Linked DNA regions of Homo sapiens. The protein of the gene in region 1 purifies or fractionates together with the protein of each later gene. This does not show direct contact. Each region holds a gene or a part of one and is shown in the gene's direction. Other genes may lie near its edges.

Region 1 (3,754 bases):
CCTGGTCCTCCAGTGTTGTCATCTGATCCAAATATGCTGAGTAATGAAGAAGCAGGACATCATGTAAGGGACATAGTATATTTTCATTCTGAGAATACACTGTTTAGAAGTTCTCCATGGTAATGGTAGCACAGTCATCTTGGGGAAAGGTGGTAGTTCTTAGAAGTTATCATGTAAGGATTCTTGATTTCTTACTGGAGTTTATAGGGCTAAAGGGTTGTGATGCCCAGAAACAGAGCCTTTAACTGCTAATTTTTACTATTTTCTTTATTTTAGTTTGAACAAATGCTTAAATTGTCACAGCGATCCAAGGATGAGCTCTTTAGTATTGCCCTTTATAATTGGCTAATACAAGTCGACCTTGCAGATAAGCTGCTACAGGTAAATCTTTTTTTATTGCAGTTGTGTTAATTATTCTTAAGGAGCATAACTCAATGATTTAAGCACATATATAGATGTAAAAAATTCAGTTTCTCATCCCATGCCTGCTATTAGATGTTAGTATAAAGCTGAGTAATGCAGTATCTTTTCCTAAGGGGCAAAGTAGGCTACTGCTCCAATTTTCTTGTTAATTCGAAGCTGATTGGGATAGTTTGTATTGCGGGGTAGAAATCACTGGATTATGAATATGAGTCCTGTAGGTCATCTTATCTTAACTCTGCTGTTAAGTCACTGTGACTTCAGATATGTCCTTTTACCTACCCTAAGTTTCAGTGTTCCTCAATCTGTTTAATGAATACATAGCATTTGATAATTTCAATAATGCCTTTGAGCTCAATGTCTAGGAATCAATAGCTGTGTTATCAAAGTTTATTTAAAAATTTGTAATTTTATAGTAAATTTCCCTTTTTTTTTTTTTTTTTTTTTTTTGAGATGGAGTCTGGCTCTGTTGCCCAGGCTGGAGTGCAGTGGCATGATCTCAGCTCACTGCAACCTCCGCCTCCCGGGTTCCAGCAATCCTCCTGCTTCAGCCTCCCAAGTAGCTGGGATTACAGGCACCCGCCACCACGCACAGCTAATTTTTATATCTTTTTAGTAGAGACGGGGTTTTACCATGTTGGCCAGGCTGGTCTCAAACTCCTGAGCTCAGGTGATCTGCCCACCTCAGCTTCCCGAAGTGCTGGGATTACAGGCATGAACCACTGTGCCCGGCCAAATTTCCTTTTCTTTTTTGAGGCAGGGTCTCAATCTGTAGCTTAGGCTGAAGTGCAGTGCAATGGCACGATAATGGCTCACTGTAGCCTTGACCTCCCTAGGCTCAGGTGATCCTCACACCTAACCCTCCTGAGTAACTAGAACTATAGGCCCGCACCACCACACCCAGCTAATTTTTTTGTAGAGACGAGGTTTTGCCATATATTGCCCAGGCTGGTCTCAAACTCCTGAGCTCACATGATCTGCCCACCTCGGCCTCCCAAAGTGCGAGGATTACAGACATGAGTCGCCATGCCCAGCCTACTAAATTATTGTTATCAACCTAATAGAATTGTTTTGGAAACTCTTATGCTAACTGTGGTAAAACAAAAATTGTTTATAATAAGAAAATTTGCCCTCTCTTTTATCTGTTAGTATTGGATTATAATTTTGCTTGTTTTCATAAAACAAGGCAAAGTTGTAGTTGACTTAAAAATACTATATTTTCCTTATCAGGAACATTATCTGTAGGTGGTTAGAAAATTTTTCTGAATAACTATATAATTTCTAGGTTGCTTCTCCATTTCTGGAGCCACATCTAGTCCGAATGGCCAAAGTTGATCAAAACAGAGTTCGTTATATGGATTTACTCTGGCGGTATTACGAGAAGAACAGAAGTTTCAGTAATGCTGCTCGTGTACTGTCCAGACTGGCTGACATGCATAGGTATGGCATAATATTCTTATTGTGAAGAATGATTCAAAACTGAGCTATATGTACTTACATTCAGTTTTCTTTAATTTTAGAAGAATCTAAGTTTTAATATACTGACCTAAATTTTTTAAATAGGATGTTACTTTTTAGTCATAAATGTATTTCTTTATGTGTTGTCTAAAATTGTGGATCTCTCTTATGAGAAATCTAAAATAGATTTTTTTTTAAATCTAATGATTTTTTTTCAAGTTTCAGATGGCTTTTTATGTGTGTTTGGTATGAAACAGTACATACTAATTGACGTATTTGTATCATCAATCCTTAAGAAATTGTGTAACTAAAAATAAGCGTTTTCCCTTCTAGCACAGAAATTTCACTTCAGCAGCGACTAGAGTACATTGCTCGAGCCATTCTTAGTGCCAAAAGTTCCACTGCCATTTCATCAATAGCTGCCGATGGTGAATTTCTTCATGAATTAGAAGAAAAAATGGAGGTAAGTGCTAAAGATCTTAAGCTGTGTCCACATTGAGTACTAGCCACATAGTTATTCCACATTCCATTCTTCCCTTGGTAAGTAATAGGTCTGAGAAGTCATTATTATTCTAGTTGCTTTTGTCTGTTTATATTTATTTTTATGTTTAGATATAAATCTTAAAGATTTTTAAGGATGCACTTGGGTCATAAAAACATTGCTATAATTTAGAAGTTTTCTCTTTGGCACTTCGAAAGGTTTTTCCCAGCTGGGTGCAGTGGCTCACGCCTGTAATCCCAGCACTTTGGGAGGCCGAGGCAGCCAGATCATGAGGTCAGAAGTTCGAGACCAGCCTGGCCAATATGGCGAAACCTTGTCTCTACTTAAAAAAATACAAGAATTAGCCGGGGGTGGTGGCACACACCTGTAGTCCCAGCTACTTGGGAGACTGAGGCAGGAGAATTGCTTGAACCCAGGAAGCGGAGGTTGCAGTGAGCTGAGATTGCACCACTGCATTCCAGCCTGGGAGACAGACTGAGACTCTGTCTCAAAAAATAATAATAATAAAAAATAAATGTTTTTCCCAACTGTTTCAACAGCAAGTGGATTACATCACATTCACCATTTATTTTGGAAGCAAATAAGTAGATGTATGAAGTAGAGTAGGCTAAAATTCCCTAACTAAGAGAATCAAAAACATACCATCGTCCAAATACAAAAGTTTGTTTCTTATTCACAAAAATCCAAGGTGAGTCTTCCTGATTGGCAGCTGGCTTTCCTCCGTGTGGTTGATTTAGGAACCCAAGTTCTATTTTCTGGCACTACCATTCCCTAGGGCCTCTGCTTTATCTTCAGCAGAGGGTGGAAGGAAAAGAAAGAACACATTCACTGTCTTAAAAACTATAGCCCTGACATGACACACTACTTCTACTCACATTCCTTTGAAGAGAACTTGGTTGTATGGCCATACCTCCCCTACAGAGGAGGCTGAGCTGTATAGTCTAACCATTTGGCTACAGTCTTGGAAGGTATAAGTATTGGGCAGCAAGGAGTCTGCCACAGTATACTTCCTGTGAAATCTATTATGTTTAGTTGATGTCTGTTATGATAATATTAGCCTATTATGATAGAAATCTTCATTTATACATTATTTTAGCAAACTTAAAGTCAGATAGTAGGATCCGTTCTTTCAAACGTATGTTGATTTATCATAAATAAATTAAGACATCCTGTTTTCTGCCCAAACTAGGTTGCTAGGATCCAACTTCAGATACAGGAGACACTACAAAGGCAGTATTCCCATCATTCTTCTGTACAGGATGCAGTTTCTCAGCTGGATTCTGAGCTGATGGACATAACTAAGGTAATAAAAAAGCAAGTGAAATTTTTATAGTAGTTACCTAATAATGAGAAATTTTTGTTTTTTATTTTGCT
Region 2 (3,754 bases), on another chromosome or scaffold:
TTACATAGATTTATTTTAAAAACATTTTGATTATGTTAATTTGAGCTTTCCCTTTTTTTTTTTTAACTACTTTTTAAAACACTTGATTACTAGTGGCTTAGAGGTGTGTACATCTCCTGAACATCACAAACTTGGTTTCTACCTACCACACGAGTAGCCAAAAGAAAAGAAGCACTAATAGAGAAAGGGGTGTCTCACACCAGACAGAGGACCTCTGCTGTCAATTAGATCCAGTATCATGACCTAACTTTAAGTGTGGAAAAGAGTTCAGATCTCTGAGACACTGTGAAGAAATGGATGGCTCATGTAACATCTCTGATCCCTCAGTCCCCAACCCTGGACGTGTTTCATTTACAACATTCATAGGAGTTAACTTAGCAGTGTTGCAAGTTAAGGTTCCAAACCAAATTATTTAATCAGTGTCCCCCCAATAAATCACTTATCCATTTATTGCTAGTTAGTTTTATTTATAGCAACTTGATTTCCTATGAGTATGGCTCCTGTTGTAAGAATTTTCCCACCTCTTCTGACATGAATGTAGCATAAGTTAGCAATCGGTTCTTCCAAACTCCTGTGGGTTGAATATGGTATAGAAGGTATGCAAGAGGAAAAAGAAAGGAAAAGATAAAACTCCTGCCTGAGAATTTGGAAGCACCTTTATTAACACATATATCTCGCAGAAACTAGAAGCTCATAGGCTGTTAACTTTTTGCAACTATTCACTCATTTTTACCACTTTTTTTTTTGGGTGAGGGGGTGATTTTTGTAAGGTTAACAGCCAGATTCCATTTTGACCTCAGATGCTGTGTACTTTTTAATTTCATTTTTTATATTCTGCCATCTTGACTCTTCTCTAAAACAGAATGAAAATGTCTGCATGCTGAGCAAAATGCTTACGCCAAGCCTGTTTTTCTCTGCAGAGTAAACAGGATGTTTTCAGCAGACTTGGCTCTAATAGCCATCTCTAAGATTAGGGAACAATTGAGTCTTTATGTAGAAAAGATCCATTTTTTCCCCATCCTCAGAGTTAAAATTCAACATTTAAAGCTTTATCGGTTATTGTTTTAGATTTGAGATTTTTGTTTTTAAGTATCTATAAGATCTTTAGAAGTGAGATAAATTTTTCGCTGGTTAAAAAAAATCAAACTTTCCTCTGCAGTGTTTTTGCCAAGTTTTGTCACACTTCATGTGTATGCATTAACTATACTTCTTAGTGTTACTGCAAAAAAAAAAAACAAAAACAAAACAAAAAAAAGCCTTGTTCTTTAATTGTGTTTTTCCTCCTGTGAGTGGACAACTAAAGCCGCGTGATGATGCGGATGAAAATATTCTGGTCTGTGTGTATACAATGAATTGTCAGTCTTCAGACCTCATGGTCGTTAAGAAAATAGGGAACTCACAAACCCTGCTGCGCACTACATTTACTTCTTTATCTGCAAGTACAGGGAGTCCATACAGTCAAGAAACACACAGATACACATAATGCTATTGAGGACATTGTCATTCTGTAAGAAAACAGAATATTATCTAGATTTCCAGAGTTAGTGCAGACCCTGTGATAACAGTCTGTGGGTTTGTGGCCAGCGCCAAAGGTGTGTGTATTTTCAGAAATGGTCCCTATTTGTCAGTGATAGTGTTTTTTTTTTCTTAAGTTTGACAAAGGGGGTGGTAATATCACATTCTTTAGATTTGAAATAATTATCAGCTCCAAGAATCTGTGAACATAGTAATAACAATAAAAATTCAACATCGACCCTCCCTAACCTGCTCACCATACCTCCCCACCCCATGCCTCTGAAGAAAGAGGCCATGAACCTACGAGGTGGTAAAGGGGGACACAGGTCAGGGAGTGGAGAGCTACTCCTCCAGCAGCTCAGCACCCACACTGCCCGCATGCGTGTGGCCACCGGGACCAGATCCCGAGTGATTGTGGCATACCCCTAATATTTGAGTAGTTTTTAAGCTGTCAGTCTCTTGTCATAACCTCCTACCGCCACCCAAAAAAGTAACGAAAGTTGCAGTAACTGCCAGTGTTTGCCTCACCAAATTTAAATCGTTCCCTTTTCAGTTAGCTATATACCTGAATTTGTTTTTAACAAGAAACTGTACATGGCCAGGAAAAATGGTACTACCTTGGCCAAAGGGTCTTTGCAAAAAGCTCAGTCTTCAGTTCTTCACTGTGACAAATGCTTATCTTGTTCATGGGAGGGGAAAGATCAGATAAATAGGCAAGAAGTACTCTGTTTTAAATAAAGAATAAATAGTGTCCGTTTAAAGCACTTTGTGCCTCAACTTCATTTTTAAACTGTAAATCATTGCTTTGGAAATAAATTCCCAATTATAATTGACCCATATCTAGCCAATATCAACAAGTTGGGATGGTTTTTGTTTTTTTCTTTTTTTTCAAAAAGGGAAATTCCTCTTTACTGCTCACAGTAAGCTGCAAAAGAAAGTTGTCAAGGTGGCTTATGATGCTGTTGTAGCAGAGCTGTGAAAGGAAGTGCTTTGCTTTCTCTCCCGCCTTCCGGAATCTGGCGTTCCTTCCCCTTCGGCTACTGAAAGGTGTGTACAACTCCCAGAGGGGTGGCTGTAAAAGTTGACTGGAGGCAAAGTGGAGTGGCCTTATTGCCAGGACTAGCCCTACAGAAGAGCTTTACAGAGAGGAGGACAGTACATCCTATGTGTGTTCGCCAAAAATGGGAAAGGTGGGTATTTAGGCAAAACAAAATAAAAACCTTTGGAACCCTTTAAGAAGTTACATACCTTTTAAAGGTAGTATAGTTTCTCACCAAGTGATGCATTTTAGCATGACACTTCTTGCCAGAAATTTTGGGATAAGTTGGAATAAATGTGTTTAAAACATCATCCACCGCCCTTTTTAAATTTTGTCTAAGGAATTACTTAAGTATAGTATTTCTGAATGTGCCTTTGTGAGTACAGAGACCGTCCGTTCTAGGAAGAAGCTATCCGTTGGATACAAACAAACAGACGGTCAGCTTTAGTCATTAGGGAAGTCAAAGTTCCTCCTGGAAGTCCCAGGAGCAGCTGTTGAGATTTCATTAGCATCAATATTGCACAGTGTAGAGTTGAGTGGAAGAGATTCTGGGACTTGGGAGAGGAGACAGGGGAAGGTACCCAGGCGACGCAGACCCACGTTAGTCCAAGAGCGCAGGTTTACACATCTGCATTCCCTAGTTTTCTCCGTCTGTATGTTTGTGCTCATGTGGCTTTGGCTGTTTTGTTTTTTGTTTTTCTGTAAGCACTGGAGAATTGGAATATGGTGATACTTGTGACACATTCATGCATGTAAACAAGGCATTTTCCAGCTTCTGCCGTGTGCAGAGCGGGCAGCACGCTTTTACCCTTTGAGTCTGTGTCCTGAGGCGGCCATTACATTCCCACATGGGCGTCACATCACGTTGCTGTTGATGCAAACAGGGTATTACACACAAGGAAAAGGGGTTTTGAAGAGTTAAGATTGAAGTGTTTGAGAAAGAAAAGAGAAAAATCTGAAATCATATTTTATTTCTTCAGAGCTATTATAGTTGAACACAGAAATCTGCAGTGTCTTTATTTGTTTTTATGTTTTAAACAATTTCACCTCTTCTCCCCACTCCTATCTTCTAAAGAAATATCAAGCAAATGCTAAGGGCCATTTCCATGATTCCTCAGAGCTCCCCCAAAGAGGAGAACAGTCCCTCCCACTCGATTCCTTCAGCTTCATTCAGGAAGACACAGGGAGGAGAGATGCTGC
Region 3 (3,754 bases), on another chromosome or scaffold:
TATAATAGGATTATACAAAAGGAAAGAAAATATTTTTGTTAATGGATGTATCAGAAATAAAATCAAATTTAGATTCCAATACAGTTTTCAGTTTCTTGACTATTTTATGCTCTTTCTGAAAATAGCACTGTCTTTGAAAATCAACTGAATATGATGGCTTGCCTTTCTTTTCAATGTCCCAAGTAAAATCAAATTACTTTTTATTATTTCTAGTACGTCGAAAAATTCTAAATATTCTTGACTCGATTGACTTCAGTCAGGAGATCCCTGAGCCTTTGCAGTTGGATTTTTTTGATCGGGCCCAGATTGAACAAGTTATTGCTAACTGTGAACACAAGAATTTACGGGGACAGACAGTCTGCAATGTCAAGGTGAGGATTGCTTTAAAGTACATATCTGCAGTGTCAAGTGGCTCAGACTTTAAGTCATCAGAAACAAATAGAACCATATAGGTTTTCTTTCTGATAGAGACATTGGTTTAGTAGTTTATAGGAAGGACTGTGATTTTTGTAAAATATCCCTGAAATAAAACTTAATATATCACCTAACTTCTTGAAAAGGGATACTTAATATTTTGGTCTGGAAATTGGACAGTGCTCCTGTTAGATTATATATAAAGGTATCTGACACCTTTCCCTTTAGGGCAGTTTATGGTAATTGCTAGGTGTTACTGTTCTACCAGTGTCTGAAATGTCTTATTTTTCTTTCTTTTCCTAATTATCCAGCTTCTTCATAGGGTTCTTGTAGCTGAAGTAAATGCCCTTCAGGGTATGGCAGCCATAGGACAGAGACCTCTACTAATGGAGGTAAGCTCTATTGAGTATGTGTTCGTTTCAAACTTCTAACTACTTAGGTTGCTGGTGAAAAGACTAAAATAGTATATTGACATGTAGTTTGCTAATTAGTAAGCTGCCTAAAAATTAAACATTTAGGGAGTCTTTCACTTTTGATTTTATAACTTTTATAAACTGAACTATCTGGTATGCCAAAATAAATAACACCTTTTCTGCTAGGCTAGTTAAGGATTTGCAACCTGACCATATTTCGTATTAGACTTCACTTGGTCCCCATCAGTGAGAGAGGAGGGTCATTTGTCATCACAAGTGGAAAGTTACAGATAAGAGGTCAGGTGGGAAGAACCACATGAATGGAGATACAGCCGGCCAGGCCAAAGCAAGAGGCAAAGAAATAAAAGAGATGTCAGAGAAACATGCCATTGAACTTGGAGTTTAGATAATTCTAGTGCTCTAGAGTAAGCAAGTATAAGTAGACAGGTACAAGGAGAAAGAAGATGGTGTCAAAAAATACATATTTATCTATGCCACTTCTGTCCCCTACCTTTCATGCACATACACACACATACACACCTTATATGTTAATATTTTTTATAGCCCTGGCTACTGAAATAATATGAAAAGATACCTGCTTCCTGGCATGCATGTAGTAGGTTTCCAAATAAATATTTTCTGAGTAACTGACAGATAACTGATCTTATTTGCCTGTTTAACCTTGTGATTCAATTCCTGTGGCTTTAGGAAATCAGCACTGTACTTCAGTATGTGGTAGGAAGAAATAAATTGCTGCAGTGTCTTCATGCAAAACGTCATGCTCTGGAGTCGTGGAGGCAACTAGTAGAAATTATACTGACAGCTTGTCCCCAGGACCTCATTCAGGCAGAGGATCGACAACTGATTATTCGTGATATTTTACAAGATGTGCATGATAAGGTGACGTACTTCCTAAAATACTTTATACTGCTGAACGAATGTATCATTTAAACAAATATATTTTGGCATCCTAATTGTTTTCCATTTTCGATTGGGAGTAAAATAGAATTGTGCAATACCAACGTTAAGACTTTCCTTGAGAAAGGGATTAATTCTGTACAGTAGTGGCTCTCAACCAGAGTGTGTGTCTGAGTTATCTCGGGAGCTTTGTAAAAATTCACATGGACAGAGCCCACCCCAGACCTACTGAATGTAGTGGTGAGACCATTTATGTGAATTTCAAAAAGAAAACCTCCCTAGGGAATTCTGATAGGAATCCCTTCTGGTTAAGAACACCCATTACCTAGCATCATGTTTAAATTTCTCTGTATATATTAGATTCCTTTCTTTCTTTCTTTCTTTCTTGACTAATTTCTGTATTCCATTCTTATATTGTTACCATAGTTGACAAGCTAAATGTATATAAAACTTGTTAATGGGCTGTGTGCAGTGATTCATGCCTGCAATCCCAGAACTTTGAGAGGCCAAGGTGGGAGGATCACTGGAGCCCAGGAGTTTGAGACCAACCTGGGCAACATAGTGAGATTCCATCTCTACGAGCATGATGGTGTGCACCTGTAGTCACAGTTGCGGGAGGCTGAGGTGGGAAGACCTCCTGAGCCCAGGAGGTCAAGGCTGAAGTGAGCTGAGATTATGCTACTGCACTCCAGCCTCGGTGACAGAGCGAGACCCTGTCTTCAAAAAAAAAAAGCTATGAAATTTGTTAATGATTATAGCTGAAAGCAGGATTCTCACTCTAATTTGCCCTTGTCCTTTAAGATACTGGATGATGAAGCTGCGCAAGAGTTAATGCCTGTGGTCGCCGGGGCAGTGTTCACACTGACTGCTCACCTAAGCCAGGCCGTCCTCACTGAACAGAAGGAAACATCAGTCTTGGGACCAGCAGAGGCCCATTACGCTTTTATGCTTGATAGTTGCTTCACCTCACCTCCTCCTGAAGAGAACCCATTAGTGGGTTTTGCTTCTATTGGAGATTCTTCACTTTACATCATATTGAAGAAACTGTTAGACTTCATTTTGAAGACAGGTTTTTTTCATTTAAATTGTCTATAAATTCTATCTTTTGTATTTGTTTTAACTTTAATTGAGAAAAGATTTTCATTTGACATCTTCCTAATCTCCCTAGGTGGTGGATTCCAACGAGTGAGGACTCACTTGTATGGCTCTCTGCTTTATTACTTACAGATTGCCCAGAGACCTGATGAACCAGACACCTTAGAAGCAGGTAGAATGAGATCAATTCCTAATCTTTTCTGGATTGGGAGATGGTTACTTTAAATTGAAAAAAAAAATCACTTCTCCATCTTTTGACTAATCACAACTGTAAAAAATGAGTGTTAGTGTCATTTTTAAAGCATTTACTCAAAAGTTGAGGAAGAATGTTTAGTTTTTAAGAATTATGAAGTAGTACATGAGTACTACTTTTAAGATAACCTTCAAATAATACTTTAGCTTTATATACTTCTGTAACTCCCTCACTTGCCTCAAGTCCGACTGAACAGTGTGCTCTACATAGAATGGTCCAATGTCTTTCTTTCCTTTGTGCTACATCAGAGTACTTATCTAGTTGATTCTTTTAAAATATCTCGGCCTGGCATGGTGGCTCACGCCTGTAATCCTAGCACTTTGGGAGGCCGAGGCCTGTGGATCACCTGAGGTCAGGAGTTCGAGACCAGCTTGGCCAATATGGTGAAACCCCATCTCTACTAAAAATCAGAAAATTAGCAGCCATGGTGGCAGGCATCTGTAATCCCAGCTACTCAGGAGGCTGAAGCAGGAGAATCGCTTGAACCCAGGAGGCAGAGGTTTCCCAGATTGCGCCACTGCCCTCCAGCCTGGGCAACAAGAGTGAAACTCTGTCTCAAAAAGAAACACAAAAGTCTTTGTTATTCCATGATATGGATGAAACACTTATCTGCCATTTTCCTTATTCACAGGCATTTCAATTGTTTCTAAATTTTTATTAC

Evidence for each region.
Region 2: the proteins of NUP155 (region 1) and TNRC6B purify together in Homo sapiens (affinity purification with mass spectrometry; 2 studies listed by BioGRID). This does not show direct contact.
Region 3: the proteins of NUP155 (region 1) and NUP205 purify together in Homo sapiens (affinity purification with mass spectrometry; 2 studies listed by BioGRID and IntAct, with this or other methods). This does not show direct contact.

What each region holds. Positions count from the first base shown.
Region 1 is NC_000005.10:37,301,366-37,305,119, reverse strand, and holds part of NUP155 (nuclear pore complex protein Nup155), read left to right. Parts: coding exon 1-63; intron 64-276; coding exon 277-381; intron 382-1,705; coding exon 1,706-1,860; intron 1,861-2,211; coding exon 2,212-2,341; intron 2,342-3,569; coding exon 3,570-3,683; intron 3,684-3,754.
Region 2 is NC_000022.11:40,327,797-40,331,550, forward strand, and holds part of TNRC6B (trinucleotide repeat-containing gene 6B protein), read left to right. Parts: 3' UTR 1-3,754.
Region 3 is NC_000007.14:135,616,877-135,620,630, forward strand, and holds part of NUP205 (nuclear pore complex protein Nup205), read left to right. Parts: intron 1-213; coding exon 214-371; intron 372-725; coding exon 726-806; intron 807-1,535; coding exon 1,536-1,727; intron 1,728-2,546; coding exon 2,547-2,814; intron 2,815-2,913; coding exon 2,914-3,012; intron 3,013-3,754. UniProt on the Homo sapiens protein: Plays a role in the nuclear pore complex (NPC) assembly and/or maintenance. May anchor NUP62 and other nucleoporins, but not NUP153 and TPR, to the NPC.